4 linked regions of the Homo sapiens genome follow. The main gene of each other region encodes a partner of the protein of the gene in region 4 in a complex. Each region holds a gene or a part of one and is shown on either strand. Other genes may lie near its edges.

Evidence for each region.
Region 1: MED13L (region 4) and MED16 share a complex: the UniProt entries of both Homo sapiens proteins name them as parts of the mediator complex.
Region 2: MED13L (region 4) and MED18 share a complex: the UniProt entries of both Homo sapiens proteins name them as parts of the mediator complex.
Region 3: MED13L (region 4) and CCNC share a complex: the UniProt entries of both Homo sapiens proteins name them as parts of the mediator complex.

Annotation. Positions count from the first base shown.
Region 1 is NC_000019.10:883,165-890,188, forward strand, and holds part of MED16 (mediator of RNA polymerase II transcription subunit 16), read right to left. Parts: coding exon 6,973-7,024; intron 6,644-6,972; coding exon 6,474-6,643; intron 3,038-6,473; coding exon 2,606-3,037; intron 1,845-2,605; coding exon 1,739-1,844; intron 1-1,738. UniProt on the Homo sapiens protein: Component of the Mediator complex, a coactivator involved in the regulated transcription of nearly all RNA polymerase II-dependent genes.
Region 2 is NC_000001.11:28,324,189-28,332,060, forward strand, and holds the start of MED18 (mediator of RNA polymerase II transcription subunit 18), read left to right. Parts: upstream 1-4,851; 5' UTR 4,852-4,992; intron 4,993-6,097; exon of another isoform or gene 6,098-6,187; intron 6,188-6,408; 5' UTR 6,409-6,474; coding exon 6,475-6,547; intron 6,548-7,872. UniProt on the Homo sapiens protein: Component of the Mediator complex, a coactivator involved in the regulated transcription of nearly all RNA polymerase II-dependent genes.
Region 3 is NC_000006.12:99,558,658-99,565,681, forward strand, and holds part of CCNC (cyclin-C), read right to left. Parts: intron 4,292-7,024; coding exon 4,185-4,291; intron 3,025-4,184; coding exon 2,940-3,024; intron 2,780-2,939; coding exon 2,710-2,779; intron 1-2,709. UniProt on the Homo sapiens protein: Component of the Mediator complex, a coactivator involved in regulated gene transcription of nearly all RNA polymerase II-dependent genes.
Region 4 is NC_000012.12:116,267,670-116,274,693, forward strand, and holds part of MED13L (mediator of RNA polymerase II transcription subunit 13-like), read right to left. Parts: intron 1-7,024. UniProt on the Homo sapiens protein: Component of the Mediator complex, a coactivator involved in the regulated transcription of nearly all RNA polymerase II-dependent genes.

The sequences.
Region 1 (7,024 bases), on a different chromosome or scaffold from region 4:
AGAAGCTAAGCTGCTAAGTGGGGATGTGGGGCAGTGGGTGAAGAGCTGGGCATGGTAGGAACCGAAGCCTGGCATGGTGGGCACGTGGGGCGGTGCGTGAAGAGCTGGGCATGGCGGGGACCGAAGCCTGGCATGGTGGGCACGTGGGGCGGTGGGTGAAGAGCTGGGCATGGCGGGGACCGAAGCCTGGCACGGTGGGCACGTGGGGTGGTGGGTGAAGAGCTGGGCATGGCGGGGACCGAAGCCTGGCACGGTGGGCACGTGGGGCGGTGCGTGAAGAGCTGGGCATGGCGGGGACCAAAGCCTGGCATGGTGGGCACGTGGGGCGGTAGGGGGAGAGATGGGGGAGAGATGGGTGCGGTGGGGACTGTCCCAGTGACCCCCAGCTGCCAGGGATGTGAGACCTGAGAAAGGCTGTGGCATGTGTGTGAGACGTGGCTCTCGGGCGGGTAACAGCTGGGCCAGCAGGTGAGGACGGCTGCAGGAGACGAGGAGGAGTGTCGGAGCCCAGGACTGCCCAGTGGCTTGGCTGTGGGCAGATGGTAGACACAGACGTGCCCAGCGGGGGCACCGGGCAGTGAAGGTGCAGGTCTGTGCAGCCACACGGGGTGGCGCCAGGTGCTGCTGCAGGAGCCAGCGCAGCCCAAACTGCCTGGTGACTCACCACGAGGCCCAGGGGAAGGAATGAGGCCCAACAAGGCCCTGGGGACCGGGCGAAGGAACGAGCCCTGGGAGAAGGAATGGCAGCAGCCCTCTTCACCTGCCTGGTGACTCACTACAAGCCCTGGGGGAAGGAATGGCAGTGGCCCTCTTCACCTTTACTGCCTCTGCGGCCACAATGGGCAGTTGACATAACCACCTGCAGGCCCCGGGAGCCATCGGGGCCTCTTGACACGTGCTCATTAGTGGCTTCTGAGGAGCGCCTGCCCCACCTGCCCCACGTGCCCCCACGTCTGGCCACTCCAGGGTCCATTAGCGCTAATCGGCAAATGCCTGTGCTCTCATCTACCGGGAAAACATCTCCCTTCTCCAGAGCGGAGGCCAGCCTAAAAACCAGGCCCGCAGCCTCCGAGGCTCTGAAAACCAAGCGGCTGTTCTGGTCCCCGGTCATAGCAGGCGGGCGTCCCTGCTTCGCTCCAGCCCCAGGATTTTGTGCCGGAGGTGGGGATGACGGGCTTGGCTCCGTGGGTGCGGGGGGCCCATCGGGCGGATAGAGATGGGAATGGGGGCCCCAGAAGAGGCTGCTGGAGAGGTGGGGTGGGGTGGGGGGCGTGTTCTCAGCAGCCTCAGCTGACCCGCTGAGCCTTGGCTTCCTCTCCCTGAACCAGGTTCCGGAGGATTCCGTGCACCGCCCCTGCCCGGTCTGGCCTGTCCCCTGCTGCCCGACGGCCCCACCCACAGACCCACGCTCCACAGCCGCCCACACGCCTGCAGCCCCTCACGGTGTCCCCGCTGGCTGAGCAACGACACCTCTCAGCCTCGGCCTCGCACAGAATGGTGGCAGCCGCCGCAGCGGGCGTGGAAGGATGGAGGAGTCTATACGCCTAACACACTCAGAATGCTGGCAGGCGCGCGGTCACACCCGAGATCCTAGCACTACTGGAGATCGAGGCGAGACGATCGCTTAGGGCCGGGGTTCAGGACCACCCTGGGTGACACAGCAAGACCTGCCTCCAAAATAAAAACCAACCGCCCCCGAGGGCAGGCCCAGGGCCTCCGCAGCCGGCGGGAGACTCACCCACGGGGGAGATCTGCTGGAAGATGTTGTTCACGGGGAGTCCCTCCTTGCGCAGGGACCAGCACTCCACGATGCTGCTGGTCTGGCTGGACGCGCACAAAAGCACCTGCGGGGGAGGTGGGGGTGAGGGCTGACCCGGCACTGCTGTGGTGGCCACGCCACCACCGGAGCCTGAGCTGCGGGACCCTGGGGCCACGCACTGCTGGGCCTGTCTCTTCAGCCACGCCTGCCCCTCGGGCCCTCCTGGATTCCAGCCCAGGCCTGTCCCCAGAGCCCAACATCCACTCACAGGAACGCAAATGTCCCCGGATGGTGCCCTCCCACAGGGACAGCAAAGGGACACAGGGAACCAAGTCAGGGGCTTCAAGGAGTTTGGGGCGTTACTGATTCCTAATTACAACAGGAATCCAGGCGACCTGGTGTGGTCGGCTCAACAGTGGCCCCCAGAACATCCCATCCTCAGCCCTAGGACCGGTGGCTGGGCCGCCTCTCACAGAGAAGGGACCTGCGGGTGGGATTCGGTTCGGGACACTGAGACGGGAGAGCACGTTGGGGGGGGTCCGGGGGCCCCAGTGTCCTCACAGGGTCCTCAGGAGAGAATGTGGGAGGTTGAGATTCAGAGACAGGAAGAGGCTGCGCTGTGGCCACGAAGCGGGAGGAAGGCGCCCCGAACCGAGGGATTGGGCGCCTCCAGATGCTGGGAAAGGCAGAAAATGGGTTCTCCCCTGGAGCCCCCGGGAGGGACCGGCCCTGCCCACACCACGGTTTAGCCCGTGGAGGCCCGCGCGGGTCTCCACCCCCAGGACCCTGAGAAGCAGTGCTTCATTCCAAGCCTGCCAGCCCACGTGATGGCCTGCGCCCGTTCACCTGCTCCGACATGTCCCGGGCCAGGAACTTGAGGTGGGTGATGGCGGGAAACTTGTCCTTGCGGTTGAGGTCGGTGGTGCAGCGCATGAACAGGGAGGGCAGGATCTCCGTGTCGATACGGCACTTCTCGCTCACCACGCTCACGCACACCTTGTAGAACTGCACGGGCGACGCGCTGCTGCCGTCCGCCGTGGCCACCACGATGTTGCCGCCGCCGGTGAAGGCGATGTCGGCCAGGGCCACGCGGCCGCGCAGCCGGCACAGGCTCTCGGTGGACGTCAGCACCTGCCCGCTGGGCTTCAGCAGGGACACGGTGACCAGGCCGCTGACCGTCACCGCGATCCAGCCCTCCATGGGCTTGCCGCCGAACAGCGTGAGCGACGGTGAGAACTTGACTCGGGAGAACTTCTCCCCGAAGCTGGAGGCGCCCGACTGTGGAGAAGGGAGGGAGGGAGGAGGGGCCGCTCAGGCTCATGGGGGCTGCCCCATGACCCCCAGAAACACGCGCACAGAAGAACCACGCAGAAGCCAGGAGTGTGTGCACCTGGGTTCAGATCCTGACTCGGCCACCTGAGCCGTGTGGGATGTGATCCCCTCTGACCCTCCGTCTCCTCATCTGTAAGGTGGAAGGAACGGCACCTTTGCTTTAGAGGACAGTGGGGAGGATTAAACGGGTGAACGTGTGCGCAACGGGAGTCACCTCCCCTTTCTGTAAAGGGACAGACAGCAGCATGCTCGGTTCTGGGAGCCAGGTGGTCCCTGTTGCAACGACTTGGCTCTGGCTCTGCCGTGGCGGCACACAGGCAGCTGGTGCCAATGAGCCACACTCACAAACCCAGGCGGGGGCCGTCAGGCCCTGGGCCGCACTGTGCAGACCTGAGCTATAGCACTCAGGAAGTGCTGTGTAAGCACCAGCGGCTGCTGCGGGCACTATTTGATTTCAAATCAAATTTGTCAAGTCATTATTGACATACGGAAACATCCACCCTTCTTTCAACGTGAGTCTTTTAAAAGATGGGGTCTTGGCTGCGCACGGTGGCTCTCGCCTATAATCCCAGCACTTTGGGGGGCTGAGGCAGGTGGATCCCCTGAGGTCAGCAGTTCAAGACCAGCCTGGCCAACACAGTAAAAGCCTGTTGCTAATAAAAAATACAAAAAAATTAGCCGGGCATGGTAGCGGGTGCCTATAATCCCAGCTACTCAGGAGGCTGAGGCAGGAGAATTGCTGGAATCCAGGAGGTGGTGATTGCAGTGAGCCGAGATCACACCATTACACTCTGGCCTGGGCAACGAGAGCAAAACTTTGTCTCAAAAACAAAAAAAAAAAGAACAAGAAAAATGTCTCTACGTTGTGAAAAAATGCGAGGAAGAGAAGTGTATCATACGTATCGTACGGCTCCATTCTAAGTTACAAGTTAAAAAAAAACACTTCTTATAGCAAGAAGCAGGTCCAGAAGTCCAGGAAGCAAGCCAGGCCTGGTGGTGAGGGGTTGCCATGGCGACGACTCATCTGGTGTCCACACCACACGTCTGTGTGGGTCGCAGGCTGGCATGTCTGAGACTATGTTAAAGGAGCACATGTGCCTTTTATTAATGTAATTAAAAAACAAAAATTTGGCCGGACGCGGTGGCTCACGCCTGTAATCTCAGCACTTTGGGAGGCCGAGGCGGGCAGATCTCAAGGTCAGGAGTTCGACACCATCCTGGCCAAGATAGTGAAACCCCGTCTCTACTAAAAATACAAAAATTAGCCGGGCGCGGTGGTGCGTGCCTGTAATTCCAGCTACTCGGGAGGCTGAGGCAGGAGAATCACTTGAACCTGGGAGGTGGAAGTTTCAGTGAGCCGAGATCGCACCACTGCACTCCAGCCCGGTTGACAGAACAAGACTCTGTCTCAAAAAAAATGTATTTGGTTATTTTAAAAAGCGAGGCTCTGACTCAGGCCACAGCGGGGATGCACCTTGAGGACATCACGCTCAGTAAGAGATGCCAGACACAGAAGGCTACGCAGTGTGTGATCCTGTTTCTATGAATGTCCAGGACAGGCAGATCCAGAGAGACAACTGGGTCTCGGGGGCTGGGGTGGGGGATGGATCAGGGTGATGCAGGATGGGGACTGGGTTTCCTTTTCGGGTGATGAGAAGGGACTGAAGCTGGGCACAGTGACTCACGCCTGTCATCCCAGCACTTTGGGAGGCCAAGACAGGCAGATCACCTGAGGTTAGGAGTTCGAGACCACCCTGACCAACATGGAGAAACCCGGTCCCTACTAAAAATACAAAAAAGCAGCCGGGCGTGGTGGCGGGCGCCTGTAATCCCAGCTATTCAGGAGGCTGAGGCAGTAGAATCGCTTGAGCCCGGGAGGGAGAGGCTGCAGTGAGCCGAGATCGCGCCACTACACTCCAGCCTGGGCAACAGAGCAAGACCCTGTCTCAAAAAACAAACAAACAAACAAAAAAGATAAAGGTCTGGCCGGGCTCGTTGGCTCACACCTCTAATCCCAGCACTTTGGGAGGCTGAGGCAGACGGATCACCTGAGGTGAGAAGTTCGAGACCAGCCTGGCCAACATGGTGAAACCCCGTCTCTACTAAAAAATTACAAAAATTAGCCAGGTGTGGTGGTGGGTGCCTGTAATCCCAGCTACTCAGGAAGCTGAGGCAGGAGAATCGCTTGAACCCAGGAGGCAGAGGTTGCTGTGAGCCAAGATCGCATCACTGCACTCCAGCCTGGGGGATAGAGCGAGACTCTGTCTCCAAAAAAAAAAAAAAAAAAAGATAAAGGTCTGAGGTTAGCTATGGTGGTGGCCGCACAACATGGCGAGTGTATACGAAACCTCTGGACCGTGTGGGCTGCACACTCTCAATGGGTGAGTTCTAAGGTCTGTGAACTCCATCCCGACAAAACTGTTACCAAAAACAGGAAATACAGACAAACGGGGACCGCAGGGTGGGGAGTGCACCCCGGAGGGCCCCCGTGGCACGAAGCCGGTGCTGCGTGTACTGCGGCAATGCGCCGACAATGGCAGTCCCTGGGGAGGGACTCACGAAGGGACGAGAGAAAAGATCTTGTCCACTGCATCCCTCCAGGAAGGCCTCCTAGTTCCTGCGAGAGCCCCAGCACAAGCAGACGCACAGAGGCACGAAGCTGGGGTGGCTGTGAGGCCTTTGCCACGAACATCCCCGAGACCCTGCCGTCAGTGAGGAAACTGACACACAGAGGTGAGGAGTCAGAGCCTGAACCCAGGTGCCCCCCCAACCCTGGCCACGCCTACTCTTAACTGTCCCCCCCAACCCTGGCCACGCCTACTCTTAACTGTCCCCAACCCTGGCCACGCCTACTTCTTAACTGTCCCCAACCCTGGCCACGCCTACTCTTAACTGTCCCCCCCAACCCTGGCCACGCCTATCTTAACTGTCCCCCCCAACCCTGGCCACGCCTACTCTTACCTGTGGGGCCGAATCACAGGGAGCATAGAGAGGGGCTCTGGGATGTTACTAAATCAGAGGGTGGGCTGCATTCAGAAGACAGCAGCCACCAGTTATACATGCAGCTACCTAAGGACAGTAGCCTCCAGTGAAAGAGATAACTCACTAAGAACGGCCACCCTCAGTTAAATGAGGGGCCACTGAACACGCAGGTGCCAATGACAGCCAGACTGCAGGTGGGGGCCAAGTGAACAGCCACCCTCAGTTAAATGAGAGGCCACTGAACACACAGGTGCTAATGACAGCCGGACTGCAGGTGGGAGCCAAGTGCAAGGTCCAAAAAACCAGGGGATGCTGGTGATGGAGAGGAGAGGGGCTGGCGGGTGGCTGGGTAGGGTGACATCTCATCTGCCTCATCCGCTCACTCGGGCAGGACACTCACCTTCTCCACGTGCAGGGCCAGTTTCACACCATTGTGCAGCCAGGACAGGGCCACAATGGGGTCCCCCTCCACTAGGCTGCCCACTGAGCTCTCCCAGCTATTAGCCAGGTGGTCCGCCATGCTCCAGCACTTGATCTGCCCGTCGGCATCTGCTGACAGGAGCCGGGAGCCTGAGGGCAAGAAGCCATCATTGCGAACCTTCCAGGGATGGGCAGAGCACTGCGTTGCAGGACGGCACAGCGCCTGGGGGAAGCCAGCCCAGTGGAGAGGTCTCGGCCCAGGTAGGGCACAGCAGGTGGCACAAGGCGCACTCCAGAGATGCCCTGAGACACCCTGAACAAGAATGATTCGGGCCACTATGGAAAGAGCAGCAGGTGCAAAGCTGCAGACCAGGGGCTCTAGACCCAGCGCCGGACTCCAGACTGACCGGAGAAACACAGGGCCCCCCTGCTCCGGGATCCGGGTCGCCACCCCTGGCCACGTGGGACCAGCGCCTCACCTGACTGGTCCCACTCCAGGCAGGTGATGGCCTCGTGGTGCTCTGAGGGGAT
Region 2 (7,872 bases), on a different chromosome or scaffold from region 4:
GATGTCATGTCCACCCTTCGTAAGTCTTTTCTAATTAAACATTCCCCAATTCCTAAACCATTCTCCTAACAGTAAATCTGATTCATTGCATACCTACAATATACAGTATATACCAGGCACTGCCAAAGGCCTAAGAAGTTAAATAAACTGCCTAGACCCACACAAGCAGTTGCCAGAATTATAGATCTGTCTGACTGTAAAGCCACACCTTCAAATCTAGATCCTATAGCAGTACTGTCTAACAGAAATATGTGAGTCACATATATACTTTTAAATATTCTAGGCCAGGCATGGGGGCTCACACCAGCAATCTGGGAGGCCCAGGTAGTAGGATCACTTGAGGACAGGAGTTTGAGACCAGCCTGGCCAACATGGTGAAACCTGGTCTACTTAAAGAAAAAAAAAAAAATCAGGCGGGCATGGTGGCATGCATCTGTAGTTCCAGCTACTCAGGAGGCTAAGACATGAGAATTGCTTGAGTCTGGGAAACAGAGGTTGCAGTGAGCCCAGATTGTGCCACTGCACTCCAGCCTGGAAGACAGAGCAAGACTTCTGTCTCCAAATAAATAAAAATATAAATAAATAAATATTCTAGTAGCACCCTGTAAAAATAAGCTGGGCTCAGTGGCTTACACCTGTAATCCCAGCACTTTGGGAGGCTGAGGCAGGTGGATCACCTGAGGTCAGGAGTTCAAGACCAGCCTGGCCAACATGGTAAAACTCTGTCTCTACTAAAAAATAGAAAAATTAGCCAGATGTGGTGGCGGGCGCCTGTAGTCCTAGCGACTGGGGAGGCTGAGGAAGGAGAATTGCTTAAACCTGGGAGGTAGAAGTTGCAGTGAGCCAAGATCACGCTACTGCACTCCAGCCTGGACGACAGAGCAGGACTCCGTCTCAAAACAAAACAAAACAAAACAAATAAATAAAAATAAATAAACAAGTTAAATTAAATGTAATAAAATATTTTTATTTAACCCCAGTATCCAAAATATTATCATTTCAGCAAGTACTCTATATAAAAAAATATTGACTTGGTGTTGTGGCTCACACCTATGATCCCAGCACTTTAGGAGGCCTAGGCAGCAGAATTTCTTGAGCCCAGGAGTTGGAGACCAGCCTGGTCAATATAGTGAGACCCTGTCTCTACAAAAAAAGGAAAGAAAAAAAGGCTGGGGCTGGGCACGGTGGCTCACGCCTGTAATCTCAGGACTTTGGGAGGCCGAGGCAGGCAGATCACCTGAGGTCAGGGGTTCAAGACCAGCTTGGCCAACATGGTGAATCCCATCTCTACTAAAACTACAAAAATTAGCCAGGCGTGGTGGCTCACGCCTGTAATCCCAGCTACTCAGGAGGCTGAGGCACAAGAATCACTTGAAACTAGGAGGCGAAGGTTGCAGTGAGCCAAGATGGCGCCACTGCATTCCAGCCTGGGTGACAGAGTGAGACTGTTTAAAATATATATATATATATATATTTATGTGTAGATATACATTTTTATATATGTATATATATGTGTATATATGTGTATATATGTGTGTGTATATATATATATGTGTGTGTGTATATGTGTATATATATATGATTCCTCACTTCAAGATGTTTACAATCTATCCAGGGAGATAAGCCATGCACAAAATACATTCACAGATCCAGTGACTCCCCCGAAAAATGAAAAAAATAATTTTGAAAAAATGAATTTAAAAAAGAGTGAAAACAATAAAATAGAATGCACCTGTAATCCAGCTACTTGGGAGGCTGAGGCAGGAGAATAGCTTGAACCCAGGAGGCGGAGGTTGCAGTGAGCCAAGATCGCGCCACTGTACTCCAGCCTGGGCAACAGAGCAAGACTCTGCCTCAAAAAAAAAAAAAAAAAAAGGCCGGGCGCGGTGGCTCATGCCTGTAATCCCAGCACTTTCGGAGGCCGAGGCGGGTGGATCACGAGGTCAGGAGATCGAGACCATCCTGGCTAACACGGTGAAACCCCATCTCTACTTAAAATACAAAAAATTAGCTGGGCGTAGTGGCAGGCGCCTGTAGTCCCAGCTACTCAGGAGGCTAAGGCAGGAGAATGGCGTGAACCCGGAAAGTGGAGTGAGCCGAGATTGCGCCACTGCACTCTAGCCCGGGCGACACAGCGAGACTCCATCTCAAAAAAAAAAAAAAAAAAAGCTAATAACTACTGCTTATTAAATGCCTACACGCCAGGCATGATGGCTCATGCCTGTAATCCCAGCACTTTACGAGGTCAAGATGGGAGGATGGCTTGAGGCCAGGAGTTTGAGACCAGCCTGGGTCTCACATAGTGAGACTCCGTCTCTAAAAAAATTAATAAAATTAAATAAAAATAAAAGAAAATAAAAATATTAAGTGCTTACAATAAGCCAAGCACTATGTTAAATGCTTTATAACCATCTCATTTGATTTTGGCAAACTCCTTTGAAAGTACTATTATTATCTCTATTTTACAAAAAAAGGAAGCTGAGGCTCAGGGAGGGGAAGTGAATGCCCATGGTTGCACAGCTGGGTAGTGGCAAAGTACAGGGGTGGGCCCCATCCTAAGCTCTAGGCATCATATCCTTATCAGAGAAACCCATCCCTGTAATCTCCAGGCCTCCTTCAGGTATTATCATATTGTTTACCCATTTTCTGTCTATCTCCCCTACCTTTTTAAAAAAATTTACCCTTCTTTAAAATACCAGCTAAAATCTGGGTAAACCCTATGGTGCCTCAAATGACCTGTAATTCACTGGACTTTCTATGCTGCAATTAGTGTCTGTATAGGAAAAGAGAGGCCAAAGAAGTTCACAGCCTCCTCTAATCATTACAGCACTTGAGAGCTGGTCACTCTGCCCAATCTTGTGAATCACCAGGTTGATCAGGAGGCACATCCTAAACCCTAGGGCATACGCAATCCTTGTCAATCTTCTTTTCCTACTTAGTACACTCTTTCACGATGATCTCATTCAATGTCATGGCTTTTAGCTACCATCTATGAGGCTATGGTTTTGAAATCTCTATCTGTAGCCCATTTCTCTCCCCTGAACTTTGCCATTTGGGTGTCCCACAGACACCTGATGCTCAGTGGGTCTACATATGAACTCATCTTTCCTGTCTCACCCACACTGCTCTGTGTTTCCTAGCTTAGAGAAAAAAAGTGCTACGATAGCCACCCAAGACATCTGTGACTCCTTCATCTCTGTCTTTACCTCTGGTTAGTCATTAAAGAATTATTTTCCATATATATATAGAGGACAGAGTCTTGCTCTGTAGCCCAGGCTGGAGAGCAGTGGTGCAATTTCAGCTCACTACAACCTCTGCCTCCTGGGTTCAAGCAATTTTGGTCTCTTGACCACCTGAGCCACCTGAGTAGCTGGGACTACAGGCGTGTGCCACCACACCCGGCTAATTTCCTCTTTTTACTTTTTTTTTTGAGCCGGAGTCTTGCTCTGTCGCCCAGGCTAAAGTGCAGTGGTGCGATCTCGGCTCACTGCCAGCTCTGTCTCCCAGGTTCACACCATTCTCCTGACTCAGCCTCCCAAGTAGCTGGGACTACAGGCGCCCGCCACTACGCCCAGCTAATTTTCTGTATTTTTAGTAGAGACAGGGTTTCACCGTTAGCCAGGATGGTCTCGATCTCCTGACCTCGTGATCCACCCCCCTCGGCCTCCCAAAGTGCTGGGATTACAGGCGTGAGCCACCGCGCCTGTCCTCTTTTTACATTTTTAAAATCTTTTTCTGACATTTGTTTCTCAGCTGGAGTTGTACCAAAGCGCCTAACTGGTCGTTTTTCTTTAATTTTTTTCCAGACAGGATCTCCCTCTGTTGCACAGGCTGGAGTGCAGTGGCGCTATCTCAGCTCACTGCAACCTCTGCCTCCTGGACTCAAGCAATCCTCCCACCTCAGCCTCCCAAGTAGCTGGGACTGCAGGTGCGAGCCACTACGTTCAGCTAATTTTTTGTATTTTTTGTAGACACAGGGTTTCACCATGTTGTTCAGGCTGGTCTTGAATTCCTGAACTCAAGCCATCTGCCCGCCTTGGCCTCCCAAAGTGCTGGGATTACAGGCCTGAGCCACCGTGTCCGGCCTGGTCTTTTTTCTCTAGGCTCTCTCCTTTCCCAAACTTTTCTCCATGTTGTAGCCAGGGTTCTTTTAAAGCTCACATGTATTCTTTGGTATGGCACTGCAGAGTACTCCTGGATCTGGACCTACTCCTTTTCCAGACTCTTTTTTTTTTTTGAGACAGAGTCTCTCTCTGTAGCCCAGGCTACAATGCAGTGGCGCGATCTCGGTTCGCTGCAACTTCCGCCTCCCGCGTTCAAGCGATTCTCCCACCTCAGCCTCCCTAGTAGCTGGGATTACAGGCGCGCGTCACCATGCCCGGCTAATTTTTGTATTTTTAATGGAGACGGAGTTTTACCATCTTGGCCAGGCTGGTCTCGAACTCCTGACCTCAAGTGATCCGCCTGCCTCGGCCTCCCAAAGTGCTGGGGTTACAGGCGTGAGCCACCGCGCCCAACCCCTCAGTTCTTTTTTCTTTTGAAACCCACTATAATCTCTGTAAGTCCTATCAGTTCCAAGAGACTTTCTACACAAATACATCTCCAGGTTGTCAAACCTAAAAAGATTTTCCTAGAGCATGGCCTATGACGTCAAGGATCCAGGTAGCGCCCGGAGGAAAGCGCCAAAGGAGGCCGCCATCTTTCATACAGCAGCCCGGAATTTTGCGCATGCGCCTCTGATTGTCTGTCCGCAATGAAGCTCTTCGGCCTTCTCGGCACCCATACGTTTGGGAACGGCAGTTTCGAGGTTTGTGAGACGTCGGCTTCCGACCGGAAGTGAGAAGAGGAGGAAGTTGGCTGGTTGCACCGATCTGGGGGCTTCCCGGGCTCGGGTAACCGGAGTGCTGGTATCTAATCGTCGCTCAAAAGCTCCTAGGTGCGCGGGTGGATATAATTCCCGGCTTCTCGAGAAGACACTACAGCCTCAAGGAGGTGTGCTTCTAGTGTTTAATTGGATACGTGTTATGGATGCCGGCTTAGAAGGACCTATATACCATCATCTTAAAATAACTTCCCCTTGGCTCTCTCTCTCTTTTTTTTTTTTTTTTTTTTTTTGAGACGGAGTTTCGCTCTTGTTGCCCAGGCTGGAGTGCAATGGCGCGATCTCGGCTCACCGCAACCTCGCCTTCCGGGTTCAAGCGATTCTCCTGCCTCAGCCTCCTGAGGAGCTGGGATTACAGGCGCTCGCCACCAGGCCTGGCTAATTTTTTGTATTTTTAGTAGAGTCGGGGTTTCTTCATGTTGGTCAGGCTGGTCTCGAACTCCCAACCTCCAGTTGATCCGCCGGCCTCGGCCTCCCAAAGTACTGAGATTACAGGCGTGAGCCACCGCGCCCGGCCTTGGCTCTCTTTAAAAGGCATTTTTAGGCTAGCCGCAGTGTGGTCTCCCGCCTGTAGTAGTCCCAGCTACTCGGCTTGAGCCCAGGAGTTCGAGGTTATAGTGAGCTAGGAACTCCCCACTGCACTGCAGCCTGGGCTACAGAGCGAGATCCTGTCACCAAAAAAGAAAAGCGTACGGGGGAAGGCATTTTCAGAGAGATAGAACGCCTAGATGTTAGTTTGGTCCAAACTCTGCTACCAACTTGCTGTGTGTATCCTTCTGTCCCTCTCCAAGTCTCAATATCCTCATCTATAAAACGAAGGTCCCTTAAGTCACTTTTTCAGTTCTTCTGAATTTTGTTGCCTCTTTATTATCTCGTTTGAGCCACATAGCCTTGGGAGTTAAAAATCACTGGCCTTTGGCCGGGCACGGTGGCTCACACCTGTAATGCCAGCACTTTGGGAGGCCGGATCACCTGAGTATCACCTGAGGCCAGGAGTTCGAGGCCAACCTGGCCAACATGACGAAACCCCGTCTCTACTAAAAATACAAAAAAAATTAGCTGGGCTTGGTTGCGGGCGCCTGTAATCCCAGCTACTCGGGAGGCTGAGACAGGAGAATCGCTTGAACCTGGGAGGCAGAGGCTGCAGTGAACAGAGATTGCGCCATTGCACTCCAGCCTGGGCGACAAGAGTGAAACTCCGTCTCAAAAAAAAAAAAAAAAAAAAATCACTGGCCTCATTTTATAAGGAAGACATTGAGTCCCAGGGTGAGGGGTTATAGATAGGACTTTCTCAAGATTGCACAGGTAATGTGGAGGTTTCAGAACTTGAGACTAGAAGGTAATGCTGTAACTCCATGACCAGATCTCCTTTCTATATTTCTGTGTCATCAGTTCCTGGAACTGGCCATATAAGGAAATACTCAAACGTTTTTGAATGAATGAATCTTTGATTTGAAGGCCAGTGCCACAACAGATCTGGTCTCTCTCCACCACTTTGATGTATAAACAAGTGAACTCTTTTCCAGGTATATCCCGTGCCTTACCTGACTGGGGGCTCTGAGTCCAGTTGTGTTGTCTTCAACTTAGACACCATGGAGGCACCTCCAGTCACCATGATGCCTGTCACTGGGGGCACCATTAACATGATGGAGTACCTGTTGCAGGGTAAGTGAACTAGGGAACTTGGATTACCTGTTTTCCTCTTCTCTGTTCAGCTTCCCTTAAGATGAGAGACTTAACACAAAAGCAGCCTGCACAGTTTCTGGCACCCAGCTATGTTTTTAACTGTTACTTTAAATTATAGTTTTATATGCACTAAACATACTAAATTTGCCATCTTGGCTGGGCATGGTGGCTCACGCGTATAATCCCAGCACTTTGGGAGGCCGAGGTGGGCGGATCACGAGGTCAGGAGATGGAGACCATCCTGGCTAACACAGTGAAACCCTGTCTCTACTAAAAATACAAAAGAAATTAGCCCGGCGTGGTGGCGGGCACCTGTAGTCCCAGCTACTCAGGAGGCTGAGGCAGGAGAATGGTGTGAACCTGGGAGGCAGAGGTTGCAGTGAGCCGAGATCGCGCCACTGCACTCCAGCCTGGGCGACAGAGTGAGACTCTGTCTCAAAAAAAAAAAAAAATTGCCATCTTAACATATTTAAGTGTACAGTTCTGTATTGTTAAGTATATTAACATTGTTAAACAACAGATCTTTAGAACTTTGGTTTATTGTGAGTAGCTTGAAAAAATACTTAGTACAACTTTTTATTTCTTTGAGACAGAGTCTCAATCTGTCACCCAGGCTGGAACGCAGTGGCACAATAACAGCTCACTGCAACCTCTATCTACTTCCCGGGTTCGAGGGATTCTTGTGTCTCAGCCCCCCTAAATAGCTGGGATTGCAGGCGTGCATCACCACGCCCAGCTAATTTTTGTATTTTTAGTAGAGAGTTGTGGTTTCATCACGTTGGCCAAACTGATCTTGAACTCTTGCCCTCAAGTGATATACTTGCCTTGGCCTCCCAAAGTGCTAGGATTACAGGTATGAGCTGCCGCGCCTGGCCTAAAATACTTAAGTTTTTCATCCTATAAAACTGCAACTCTATACCCATTAAACACTAATTACCACTCCCCTCTATGCCAAACCCTTAGCAACTATCTTTCTAGGTCCTGTTTCTCTGATTTTTTTTTTTTAAGATGGATTCTCACTCCGTTGCCCAGGCTGGAGCACAGTGGTGCAATCTTGGCTTACTGCAGCCTCTGCCTCCCAGATTCAAGCGATTCTTCTGTCTCAGCCTCCTGAGTAGCGGGATTACAGGTGTGCACCACCATGGCCAGCTAATTTTTGTATTTTTAATAGAGACAGGGTTTTTCCATGTTGGCCGGGCTGGTCTTGAACTCCTGACCTCAGGTGATCCACCTGCCTCAGCCTCCCAGAGAGCTGGGATTACAGGCGTGAGCCACCGCGCCCAGCCAGATTTTGTAAACAAGTA
Region 3 (7,024 bases), on a different chromosome or scaffold from region 4:
TACTTGAGGTGTGAAGTACTTACACTCCTAAATGTACAGGCTGATTACCCCTTATCTGACATGCTTAGGATCAGAGATTTTTCTGATTTAGGAATATTTTGCATTACACTGGTTGAGCATCCCTAATCTAAAAATCTGAAATGCAAAATGTTCCAATGAGCATTCCTTTGAATGTCATGTTGGCCCTCAAAACGTTTCAAATTTTGGAGCATTTAGGATTTTCAGATTACGGATATTCTGCCTGTATTACCTCTCCCCCAAATTGCTACAACTTAAGACATATTTTAAAATAATTTTATAATTTAATAACAATAAAAGGTACCAAATTAGAAACCAAGCCTTAAGGTTACAGTGTCAGTTTTTCCATTTAAATTAGTTTCCAAGAAGATTGTTTACATTCTATACTTAATTGCAAGAATATTAAGTATGTTTCCTATTCAATTCAACCTGTATTAACAGATACTTCATGCCATTCTATGGTAAAACAGTTGAATTTGTGAATAAGATAAACCTTAATTAATCACCAAAAGAACTAAAAAAAAAAAAAAACCATATAAATAGTTACTATCCTTTTTAGAACAGGGAGACAGGAATTACGTAAGACTTCCAAAGTCAGTTCCCATTTCCTCTTTCAACTGAACAACCACCATTGTGAAAATACTAAAATTTATTATGATCCACCTTATATATACTGTTTCATTTATTGCCTCGTAAGATTTCTAAAGCCTTCACTTCATTTTAAAATAAAAAAATCAAGAGTTGGTTTCTTATCCAACAAAAGGAGCTAAACTAAAAATCTATTTAAATACCTTCAGCCTACATCCTTATCCTGTGTAGGGGAAATGTATGTGTACTAATATATTTGTTTTACATTTAAACCTCCAACTATAATAACTGAAAAGAAAAAGTAAAAGCCTGAGACATGTTCTTAAATGAGCTTTCCATACAATTTCCATAAAACTAGAGAAAATACAGAAAGATTTGGTCACAGAGATAAAAAAAAAATAATAATAATGCTACGACCAAATCTGAAAGACTACATTCTCTTTCTCAGGAATAATTCTTTTTTTTTTTTTTTTTGAGATGCAATCTTGCTCTGTCACCCAGGCTGGAGTACAGTGGCATAGTCTTGGCTCACTGCAACCTCCACCTCATGGGTTCAAGCAATTCTCATGCTTCGGCCTCCCTAGTAGCTGGGATTACAGGCATCTGCCACCACATCCGGCTAATTTTTGTATTTTTAGTAGAGACGGGGTTTTGCCATGTTGGTTAGGCTGGTCTCAAACTCCTGACCTCAGGTGATCCACCCGCCTGAGCCTCCCAAAGTGCTGGGATTACAGGTGTGAGCCACTACACCCGGCCTAGGAATAATTCTTTATCCAAAACTCAAAGGGAAAACTTTCATTCAGTAAATCACATCACAGAGTTCTACTCAGTAAATCACATAACAATATTTAACAAGTAAGATAGATTAAAATCCTCAAATTAATCTACAAGATTAAATGTTTATAAAGATTTTTTGTCTTGGTCCTCCATACTGCCTGTGCTTAAGAGACTTTAAATTATTACATGGTAATATTTAAATAAAATCAAATATTACATAGAATTATTAGAATTAGAAAACTCAATCCATAATAAGGACCTTAACTGATTCTGCCTTCTTAAACTACCACTCACAATTAGAAAACATAAACTTCTAGAAAGCTTGTCTTAATATTATTTCTAACAGAGTCAATTGTCATTATTTAGGTAACAGTTGGGAAAGATGTCATGGATAACCTTAAATCATGGCTAAAACAAAACTAAATCAAAGTGGGTGCCAAAAGGAATGTAAACTTACTAGGTAAAAATCACATTCAATATTCAAGAATACAACTCTAAGAATAGAACTCTAAGACATTATCCAAAAATAGAAACATAATGCAAAGATTTCACACCACCAAAGACTACATTATTTATGAAAAACAGCCAATATCTGCTATTATTTTCTGGACTTTAGCTGAGCTCTTTCAAAAATACTACAAAGGTAAAACAGTTGAACAGAAATTCAGTCTCTGCCGCAAGTTCCTATCTATCTTCTCTCCCTTACCTAATTTCTCTACGCTCACAACCTCAACTTTTACTTGTTAGACTCTATATAGCTATAGCTTCCCCTAATCCTTGCCTTCCTTCTGGCTTGGTAGGCAGCCAATCATCAGGATGATGGGAGGGAAGACAGGAGAAGATAAGCATATGGGTGAGAAGCATAAGGGACATTCTCAGGTTATGGTAGGCAAGCTGTGGTACTTACTGAATACTACTCAGTGCCAAACAATAGATGTCTCAAAGGCAGCAGAGGAAAGTAGTTAAGAACACAGGATTGGTAACGAGACTCCCATGGTTCAAACACGGGCTCTCACACTTACTAGCTATATCATCTTAAGCAAGTTCTTCATCTCTGTCTCAGTTTCCTCATTTATAAAATGGGAATACTACTACTATGTATTCCAGTTTGTTACAAAGATTAAGTCAGTTGGTACACAGTAAGTGCTGTATGTGTCTGTTAAGTGAATATATAAGGATATGTATATATTTCTTTGATTTTGTACAATTTTAGTATTTTGCATAAATTACCATTTATTAATTTTACATAGGCCATGTGAAAACTGGGGCAGATTAACCAACATACATTGACTACACTTTGATGAAGAACAGAAAATTGTTTTATACCTCTACTTTGGATGCCAAAAACACACATGTAGGAGCCATTAATACAGGATCTATACTTTTCAGAGAATACCTAAAATATGATAAAACAAAGTTAAATATCATTCATACAGAAAACACACTGGGAAAAAAATCAAGATAACTCTATGGTAGACACATGATTCATTTACACTGTGCTAAGGTTCATCAACATTAGATAAGAGTTCAAATAAATAAAATAAAAACAATCCTACCTGGCATAGAATCTCTTGAAATATACCGTAGCAGTGGCAATAACTTGTTGTCTTAATTTAAGATGTTCACCTAATGCTTGGATAACTAAAAGGCAAATAATGAAATTTTAAATGTATCTTCTGGTATCATTATAATATTAACATTGAACAGTAACTTCCATGTGGTTAAATCATAATTATGTTCATTTTTAACAAAGGAAAAAACCTACACATGCTCTATGTGAGTCACAGTGGTCTAATTCTAGGATTTGCAAATGTGTTAAGAAATATATAGGTATGCATAAACAACAACAAAACAACAACAAAACAGAAATTGCCCCACAGGAAAAAATTATTCATCCATTAAGGAAGTTGAATAAATATTTCCCCTCTATCTTCTAAATATTTTTAATGCTTTTCATAGTATCTTTATAATAAATATAAAAAGAAAATATTAGACACCTATGAAACTTGTTAATACTACCACTTTTTTTGTTGTTTTGAGACAGAGTCTCGTTCTGTCGCCCAGGCTGGAATGCAGTAGCACGATCTTGGCTCACTGTAATCTCCACCTCCCAGGTTCAAGTGATTCTTGTGCCTCACCACGCCCAGCTAATTTTTGTATTTTTAGTAGAGAGGGAATTTCACCATGTTGGCCAGGCTCATCTCAAATTCCTGGCCTCAAGTGATCTGCCCACCTCTGCCTCCCAAAGTGCTAAGATTACAGGTGTGAGCCACCACACTTAGCTTTATACAGCTCACCAAAATAAATAAATAATACATAAAAATCCATAACGAATCCTCAAAAAAAAGATAAGTTTACAAAATAGTGAACCGAAAGTTAAAAAAATTATGTGACAAACCTACTACATGTCAGAGTAAAGATCTATCCCTACATCTTCTTCCCTTCAAAGCAAAGTTCTAAGAGAAACGACCACTATAGGATGTCAATCCAAAGAATCATTTATCCTCAAAGTACTTTGCTTTAGCCAACCTTGAACTGGGTCTAATAATTATTATAAAGTCTTAGGGAGATTAGGTAACACTTTCAAATTGTCTTGAGTGCCTGTGATATGTAAAATTCACACAAAAAAACTTTATTTGGATCACTAAAAAGAAAGATAAATGAATATGTTGTAAAAAGAATACCTGTATAAGCAAAAATGTTAGGTATGCACTAAAACAGTTCACAAATTACCACACAAAAACATTTTTATTCAGAGGTAACCAACTATACAATTTGAACCAATTTTTAAAAAAGTTTACCATTTGTAAAAAATATTTGTAACTTCCAATATTCTTCCTCTGAGAGAAACTTTAAATCCTTTTGGCGCTCCTTCAACAGATCTTGTTTATCCAAAATCCATTGCAAACTAGAAAAGACATGTTACAGAAAATCAACAAGCAAGGTCAGAGGAAACACTCTAAGATTGAACACATTGTTCATATTCTGAGAAGTACAAAGTGCAAAAAGTAACCTTAAAGACAATTATTTCTCACATTTCTTGAAACGTGACTAATAAGAATTATCTCACTAATAAATGTAAATACGTCCTGAAAAAATTCTGCTCTAATCTTTTCCTTCTTCCTCCTTAGTCTGTTACTAGCTTGTATTTCATTGATTCTGGCTCTGATATCAAGATATGTCTTACAATCTGTGATGCCTTCGTGTTTTAATTGGCAGCATGTTTATTCTTTCTTAGTGATATAAGATAATGGTGGAATTATTTGGCACCAATTGATGGTGGCTTAGATTTGAGGAAGTATATAGTTTTCCAGCTGTTCATGGGTAACTATGGCATTTAATTTCCTTACTTCACAAATCTAATTATATTAAAAACTGCCTCAGAATGTGTTACACTGATAGCCTCCTCCTCTTGCCTAGTCAAGTGTGCTATTTTTAACCAGATATGAAATTGACATGACTCAAAGAAAAAACTATCTTGAACCTGTGTTTGTCATTCAATATGTATTTGAAGTCTTATGTCAATGAACTTGTTATTCAGCATTCTTTTATACAGCTTTATGGATGGATCATTATTTAGCCAATCTCTACTGATGGAAATACAGGTCGTCATTTTTCACCCATATTTTCTGATACCCTTAAGGGCTTTTTTCCTTCAATTTATGATCCATCTGGAATTTATTTTGGTACAAAGTAGGGATCCAGCTAAAATTTTGTCAAATGCTTATCCAAATGCATGGAGGTATTTCCTAATTTATAATTCTATCATTATACTTGGATCTTCTTTATAATTTCCTATTTTTTTCTTGTTCACATGCTGTGCTATTTTAGACACAGAAAATTAAGTAATTAATAGCTGGTATAAAAAAAAACTCTCTTCCTACTATTTTCCTGAATGATATTCTTCTTAATGAATATCTTTGTAATTCTCCTTGCATATTTGATTAATAATATATTTGAAATAACTTCCCAGAAGTAGGATTAATGGGTTAGTGTTGCTGGTAACTTATTGATACACATTGTCAGTTTACCCTCCAAAAACATTATACCAATTTCCATTTGTATTAACAGTTCATGAGTGAATCTTATAATATTTAATCCTGGCCGGGCGCGGTGGCTCATGCCTGTAATTTTAGCACTCTGGGAGGCCGAGGTGGGTGGATCACCTGAGGTCAGGAGTTTGAGACCAGCCTGACCAATATGGTGAAACTCCATCTCTACTAAAATTACAAAAATTAGCTGGACGTGGTGGCGTGCGCCTGTAGTCCCAGCTACCTGGGAGGCGGAGACAGGAGAACTGCTTGAACCCGGGAGGTGGAAGTTGCACTGAGTTGAGATCATACCACTGCACTCCAGCCTGGGGTACAGAGTGAGACTCTGTCAAAAAAAAAAAAAAAAAAAAAATTCCTATGGGTTACTGCCACTTTTAAATACTTTGTAACTTAAAGGCAAAGTAGTATGTCACTGTTTCTTTTCCCTGTAGTTTACTTTTGAGGTTAAACATCTTTCCATGTCTTTATTGGTCAAATACAGTTCTTCTTTTGTACAATGTTAATTCTAATATGACCATTTTTCTAATGGGATTACCGATTTTTTTAATGATTAAGAGATTCTTCTGATCTAAAATTTGTATAGTATAAATAATAAATCATTTGTTTGTCAAATAAGTGCAAAATTTCTCCCAAGTTTAAATATCTCTCAGTATTTATTTGTAATACAGAAATCTGAATCACTTACTTAAATCTACCTTTTACTTTCATGTTTGTCAGGCATAGCAAGGCCTTTCCTGATTCAAAACGATAAAAAACAATTCACCCATATTTTCTAATACCCTTAAGAGCTTTTTTCCTTCAATTTATGATCCATCTGGAATTTATTTTGGTACAGAGTATAAAGCAGGGATCCAGCTAAATATGTTGTCAAATGCTTATCCAAATGTGCTAAGGTATTTCCTGATTTATAATTCTATCATTATACTTGGATCTTCTTTATAATTTCCTATTTTTTTCTTCTTCATATGCTGTGCTACTTTAAAACATAGAAAATTAAGTAATTAATAGGTGATATGAAAAATACTCCCTTCTATTCTTCTGAAAATTTCTGACTATTCTATCACAATTATTCTAAGACCTAAACTTTAGAAGCATTATGTCGAGTCCTAAAAAAGAATATCCATTCAAATTTTGTGATTACATTACATTTAAAGATCAATATGGGGAGAAATGACATCTTACCAAGAATTCAAACTCTATTAAAATCTGTATGTGCCACTATGGACTTTTAAAGTTTTCTTCCTACAGGTTCTGTATATTTCTTTATATTTTTCCCTCTGTATATTTTCTGTTGCTAATGTAAATTATACTTCTCTATCCATTTTTAAAAAGCTTTTATTTTTGCATTTTATAACTGGTCACCTTCCTAAACCTTTATTATTTCTAATAACTTCTCAATTAACTGAGTTTTCTCATTAATTTTATTTCCACGTATTGATAATTTTGTCCCTGTTTTGTCATTCTTTCTATATCTCCTTTGTATCAACTGTATTGACTAGCATATTGGTAAAATCTTAAATAGGCACCCTAATTATCTCAATGTTTCACCACTGCTGATGCTTTATGTTTTTCATGTTAAGGAAGCATCC
Region 4 (7,024 bases):
TTTACTGGGCTCATAGAAAACAATCTTTTGAATGTTGAACAAAAGCACTGCTATACAGCTTAAAGAATGAAAGTAAAGGAATTCTGGATCAAGCCCCCAAACAAAATCCCCAGAAGGCTCAAAAATCTATAGGTTGCCTACTATGCTACAGAAAATCTAAACACTAAATGAATTCTTATTCCTTTGAGGAGTAAGAACATGTCTCATGATCAGTTGGAATTGTCTTTAATAAGGAAATTCTAGAATTCATCTAAAATATTACCAAGCCACAGTACATACAGTCTAGATAAAATATATTCAGAACACAGAGTTAATCATCAAAATAAGCTGAAATAAAAACAGCATACTTGTGATCAAGACCCAAATGGTCAATAAGAGCTCCCTTGAGGAATGGAGAATAATCGTCCAGGAATTCCATCACTTAACAGATAGTTAATGAGCACCTAGCAAAGATGATTTCAACAGGGTCACTCTCCTGCAGAAGCTCATCTGATGATCAGAGGTACACAGAGGGAGGTAGGGGGTAACTAGTTCTGCCTGTGGTGGTCAGAGGAGGTAACATTTGAACTTCTTAAGTAGCATTGTGCCAGGCTTACATGCAGGCACAAATACTAGGAGCTAGTTCCAAATGTTCCAGTTAGATATATGTATGTTTTTCCTTATTTCTCTTTAGGGCATGAAAATTCAATAGTCAGAATTGTCAACATAAAATGTTTTTTGTCAAACCAATTATACTCTTCTGAATACCTTATTAGTGCTCATATTAAGTTCAGATAAATTTAATCATCCTTCTTAATAATATTGAAATGAGGAAGCCTCCTGTATTATACTCAAAAATACTTCCTCATACTCACACCTGTAATCCCAGTACTTTGGGAGGCCAAGGCAGGAGGATCATTTGAGGCCAGGAGTTTGAAACCGCCTGAGCAACATAGTGAGACCCTATCTCCCCTCCTCCCAGCAAAAAAAAAAAAACACTTCTTCATAAATTTGTCAAATGTTTTTTAAGGGAGAAGAAAAGATCACAATAATTCTTATTCAGTTTAATATCCTTTTAGATTACCAATTTTTGAAATTTCTACTCCCCACCATAAAACTTGTTTACAATTACATATTTTATTTGAAACAAGTCTGTCACTCCAATTTAATTTTAATATCAAATGTCTTAAATACATTCAACTCAGTGACTTAATACAAATTAAGAATTATTAAGTAAAAAGATCTAATGAAGACTTAAATATTTTCCTGCTTTATCTTCTCCTATCAATTTTTTTTCCCCATCAACTTTTATTTTAAGTTCTGGGGTACATGTGCAGGTTTTGTTACATAGGTAAACATGTGCCATGGTGACTCGCTGCACAGATTAACCCATCACCTAGGTTTTTTGGTTGTTTTTGTTTTGTTTTGTTTGAGACAGTCTCGTTCTGTCATCAGGCTGGAGTGCAGTGGCACAATCTCGGCTCACCGCAACCTCCAACTCCCTAGTTCAAGCGATTCTCCTGTCTCAGCCTCCCAAGTGGCTGGGATTACAGGCACACACCACCACGCCCAGCTACTTTTTGTATTTTCAGTAGAGACGGGGTTTCACCAAGTTGGCCAGGATGGTCTCAATCTCCTGACCTCATGATCAGCCAGCCTCGGCCTCCCAAAGAGCTGGGATTACAGGCCTGAGCACCGCACCCGGCCTATCATCTAGGTATTAAGCCCAGCATCCATTAACTATTCTTCCTGATGCTCTCCCTCCTCCCCGCCCCCCCAATCTACTTTTAAAGTTAAAGCCACAAATTTAAACTATGCAAAAAAAAAAAAAAAAAAAAAAGACACTAATGAAATTTTGATGCACTCAACTCAAGAGGATCCTTTAACAGTAATGGAGGCAGGGAGCAGCGGCTCATGCCAATAATCCCAACATTTGGGGAGGCTGCGGTGGGAGGACTGCTTGAGCCCACTGCACTCCAGCCTTAGTGACACAGGGAGACTGTCTCAAAAACAAAACAAAACAAAACAGACAAAAAAGAAAAACAGTAATGGAGTTTTACTATACTGAAAAATAGTACAAAATGTAGAAAGCTGTCAGCCAAGGCTCTGCGCTATTTCAAAGTAGTAGAAATACAGTTTTAATTAGATTCTACACCACAATTCATCTAGAATGAGAAATAAACACTGAGAAATATACATAGTAAACCAGAGTATGGAAATGCCAATGAAATAACATTTTGCCTTGGACACAACTGACTCTCCTGTCATCTAGAAAGAAGTCAATGAAAAAATACAAGGCAGTTTTCTTTTTTTTTTTCAAACTAGAATCAAAATATATTCTAAAAAGCACTTTATTAACTTAAAAAAAGGAGGACAACTCTACTCCAACAAAGATAACCAAAACATGCTAATATAAATGCAAGAAAAACAGGAGTTCCTAAAGGAGGATTATTACAGCTAATATGTGAGGATAAAATCTATTCTATACCACAGATAATTTTTTTTTTTTTTTGAGACAGACTCTCGCTCTGTCGCCAGACTGGAGTGCAGTGGCACCATCTCGGCTCACTGAAACCTCTGCCTCCTGGAATCAAGCGATTCCCCTGCCTCAGCCTCCCAAGTAGCTGGGACTACAGACGCGCACCACCACACCCAGCTAATTATTTTCTATTTTTAGTAGAGACGGGGTTTCACCATGTTGGCCAGGATGGTCTCAATCTCCTGACCTCGTGATCCGCCTGCCTTGGCCTCCCCGCAAAGTGATGGGATTACAGGCTTGAGCCACCACGCCCAGCTAGATAATCTTAAAGTTCAGTAATAAAACAAGGGAGTAAAGGAACACGAATTTTAAACTATTTTTCTATCAACTAAAGCAAAGACAGAAAACGCTGATGTACATGACTTCATACTAAACAAAAATTGGGCAAGCATACATATTTCATTCATGCAAATGAGTCTGAATTTACAATTCGTTTATGTTAATATTTACTAAGATTAATGAAATATCATCTCCCCTATGTAATGAAGTGAATTCCCCCAACAGAACAAAGCTAACACCTTTAAATCTTTCAAATAAACAATGAAAGTATATATACTATAAAAGAAAATTATCAGCCGGGCGCGGTGGCTCGAGCCTGTAATCCCAGCACTTTGGGAGGCCGAGGCGGGCGGATCACAAGGTCAAGAGATAGAGACCATCCTGGCCAACATGGTGAAACCCCATCTCTACTAAAAAATACAAAAATTAGCTGGGCATAGTGGCGCGCGCCTGTAGTCCCAGCTACTCGGGAGGCTGAGGCAGGAAAATCGCTTGAACCCAGGAGGCGGAGGTTGCAGCGAGGCGACTTCGCACCACTGCACTCCAGCCTGGTGACAGAGCGAGACTCCGTCTCAAAAAAAAAAAAAAAAAAAAAAAAAAAGAAAGAAAATTATCTGAACAAGCTCAGAAAGAAGTTAAATGACTCAAGAGGGGGGAAAATGTCCTAAATTCCAAGAACACATACAAATACTGATTCGCTAATTCTGAAACTCTAAGCAAGTCTTATGAAACAAATACGTGTGTGTGTGTGTGTGAGTGTGTGCGCTAGAATACTATACAGACTTTTAGGCTACCCAACTACCTCACTTTGAAATACATTAAATATAATTTCTTAAAATAGAAATGTTATTATGACAGGCACGCCTGTAATCCCAGCACTTTGGGAGGCCGAGGCGGGAGGATCACGAGGTCAGGAGATCGAGACCATCCTGGCTAACATGGTGAAACCCCATCTGTACTAAACATACAAAAAAAAAATTAGCCAGACATGGTGGCAGGCGCCTGTAGTCCCAGCTACTCGGGAGGCTGAGGCAGGAGAATGGCGTGAACCCGGGAGGCTGAGGCAGGAGAATGGCACGAACCCGGGAGGCGGAGCTTGCAGTGAGCCGCGATCGCGCCACTGCACTCCAGCCTGGGCCACAGAGCCAGACTCCGTCTCAAAAAAAAAAAAAAAAGAAACGTTATGACAAAACAGAAATTCTGGTGGCCAACATCACACAACAGTTTGTAAATCAGATCTGCACAAAATACATCTGAAATAAATGACACTAATAACAATGTTGCATGTATTTTTTTCTTCATTTCTACGGTTGCAATGCACAGTTCAATAACAGTAATACCTAATAGTCAACCATACTACTAATTCTCATAAAATCTGTCTAATCTGGCTAACTGGTTAGCTCCTGTGAAATAAATGTATCATTCACTTTCAAAAAAAACACACACACACACAAATCAGTACTCCTACTACTAGCTTAAAGAAGGGGAACATTGTTATTATTGTTATTTTCTTCAATCAAAAATAAGTCGAATGTTTCAAAAAAAATCTACTCTATCTTTGATTCAAAGTTGAGAGACAGCTGAATTAACTGTTCATAAAAAATAAACAATTTTTCTGTTGTCTGTTTCTCTATAAATATGTAAATAGTAATATTTACATATTTTCATTGAGATGAGTTTCATCTCAATTTTAAATTATTAGGCAAAAATAATTATAGAACAAAATTAACTTAGTTATCACAATTTATAGCACTAGTACAAACTGGTGAGAGAGATCTCTGAAAGTGGTAAGGAATACAATTAAAAACCAGGCTGGCCGGGCGCAGTGGCTCATGCCTGTAATCCCAGCACTTTGGGAGGCCGAGGCAGGCGGATCACAAGGTCAGGAGTTCCAGAGCAGCCTGACCAACATGGCGAAACCCCATTTCTATTAAAAACACAAATAAATTAGACAGGCATGGTGGCAGGCGCCTGTAATCCCAGCTCCTGGGAGGCTGAGGCAAGAGAATCCCTTGAACCCGGGAGCTGAATGTTGCAGTGAGCCAAGACTTCACCAGCCTGGGTGACACAGTGGGACTCTGGTCTCAAAAAAAAACCAAAACAAAAAAAAAAAATGATAAGCTATATAAGCACCTGGCATAAATTCAATAAATACATACTATCCTAAACACACCCCCTTGCCCATTCTTCTCACAAAGAATAGGCCCTACCTAACTTCTTCCCAGTGAGTACTTCAAGCAACATCCACAGCAAAATATTTGTAGCATACAGGCCTAAGGTACATTATTGTCTCTTTAAAATTATGAACTCATCACACATACAAATGGCTCTTTAAAACAGTCCAGTAAACTGCTACACTATGCCTTAAATTGCTGTCTATTATGTACTTAAAAATATTTACTAGCAATTGGAGGTTAATATGGCAACTATTACCGGGTGGCAATTATTGCTATTAAAAATATATAAATACTGTAACACCATGTGCTACTAACAACAAAATGCTAAACCGAAAACATACATTAACAAATTGTAAATATTTTCATTACAGAAAATGATAGCCAGGCGTAGTGGCTCATGCCTGTAATCCCAGCACTTTGGGAGGCTGAGGCAGGTGGATCACCTGAGGTCGGGAGTTTGAGACCAGCCTGACCAATATGGAGAAACCCCGTCTCTACTAAAAATACAAAATTAGCCGGGCGTGGTGGCACATGCCTGTAATCCCAGGTATTCCGGAGGCTGAGGGAGGAGAATCGCTAGAACCTGGGAGGCAGAGGTTGCAGTGAACTGAGATGGCACCTTTGCACTCCAGCCTGAGCAACAAGGCGAAACTCCGTCTCAAAAAAATAAAAAATAAAAAGAAAGAAAATGAACCATCATGGAAAAAAATGCTTTAAACATAAATTATAAAATCACAATGAACTGGTACAAAAAAATACCTTGTGTATTTTGGCACTTTGAAAATTAGAGAAATCATTCCCTTTTCCTAATTTCCATTTTATAGTCCACCCTATTTTGTTCTAGCGCAAAAAAAAAAAAAATTCAGACTTTCTACATTTACAACTACCTTCCCATTCTGCAAAAAAATCCCTTAAGACAAAAAGAAAGTAGGTCAACAATAGATTACCTTAAAAGCTTCAAATATAGAACTAATGGTCTTCAATAGGAATTATGTACTAATGGGTGTACTAGTGTCTCAATTCAGCAAGAATTTGAGATTATCACCCAATTATCCATAGTCAGGAAGATTCTAAGCAAATAAAACATGAAAGTGGAGCATACATATCTAAGAACTAGAGATCACTCCCTCATATCAAAGAGCACATATTTAAATCTAGTTAAAGGGCACAAAATCACTTTCTCCATATTAACTCAATAGAGAAAAATAAATGTCTACTTAACATCCAGAAATTATGTCTTCTCACAAGAATGAGTTCACATACCATAGGGTGCACTGTTACACTTTTCAAAAAGGCAGATTTAACACACTTTTAACTGAATGATTAACTGAGTGAATATATAAAAAGTCACCCAGAAATGTGATGGACAGCATAAGAAAATAGTTTTGAGTCAGAAAGGCACAGGCAGGCATGCACTTAATGCAGCAGCTACAAATCTCACAGCAGTTAGAATAAGAAACTTATACAATGACCCATATCATATATACACAATGGCATTTTTCACACGTTAGGAAAAGGGAATGGATGCTGAAAAATTAATTTAAGAAATTTGATTCCGTGCAGTAAAAAATCAGAAAATAAGTAAAAGACTAGCAGAAATCTTAAAGTGTCTGATTGATTGCACAATCAACTTTTGGTAAGCCATAATGAACACCTCAAGGTAATGGAAACTGGGTGGGTATTACCACGGTACAGAACTTAATCTCTTATTTCAATCTAACTAATGAGAGTATCTAGGTAAATTCTTTATAAATACTTTTCTCTGCAAAAAAAAACAAAACAAAAAAAAAAAAAACCCTGCAGGCCAAAAGAAAAAAATGCATGCTATTATTAAACCATAAAGCGTTCTTATAAAAAAACATGATTTTGAACAAGTGATTACATCTCCTTCAGAAATAACTATGATATACAATGTACTTTGGGCAACATATTTTTAATATTCCAGGTTGCTACTGCTGTATAGCATTTTCAAAAAAAAAAAATCTCAATTTGGAATCAGAAAAATGTACAAGTCAGCAGTTTAATTAATTTACATTTCTTCAATAGCACC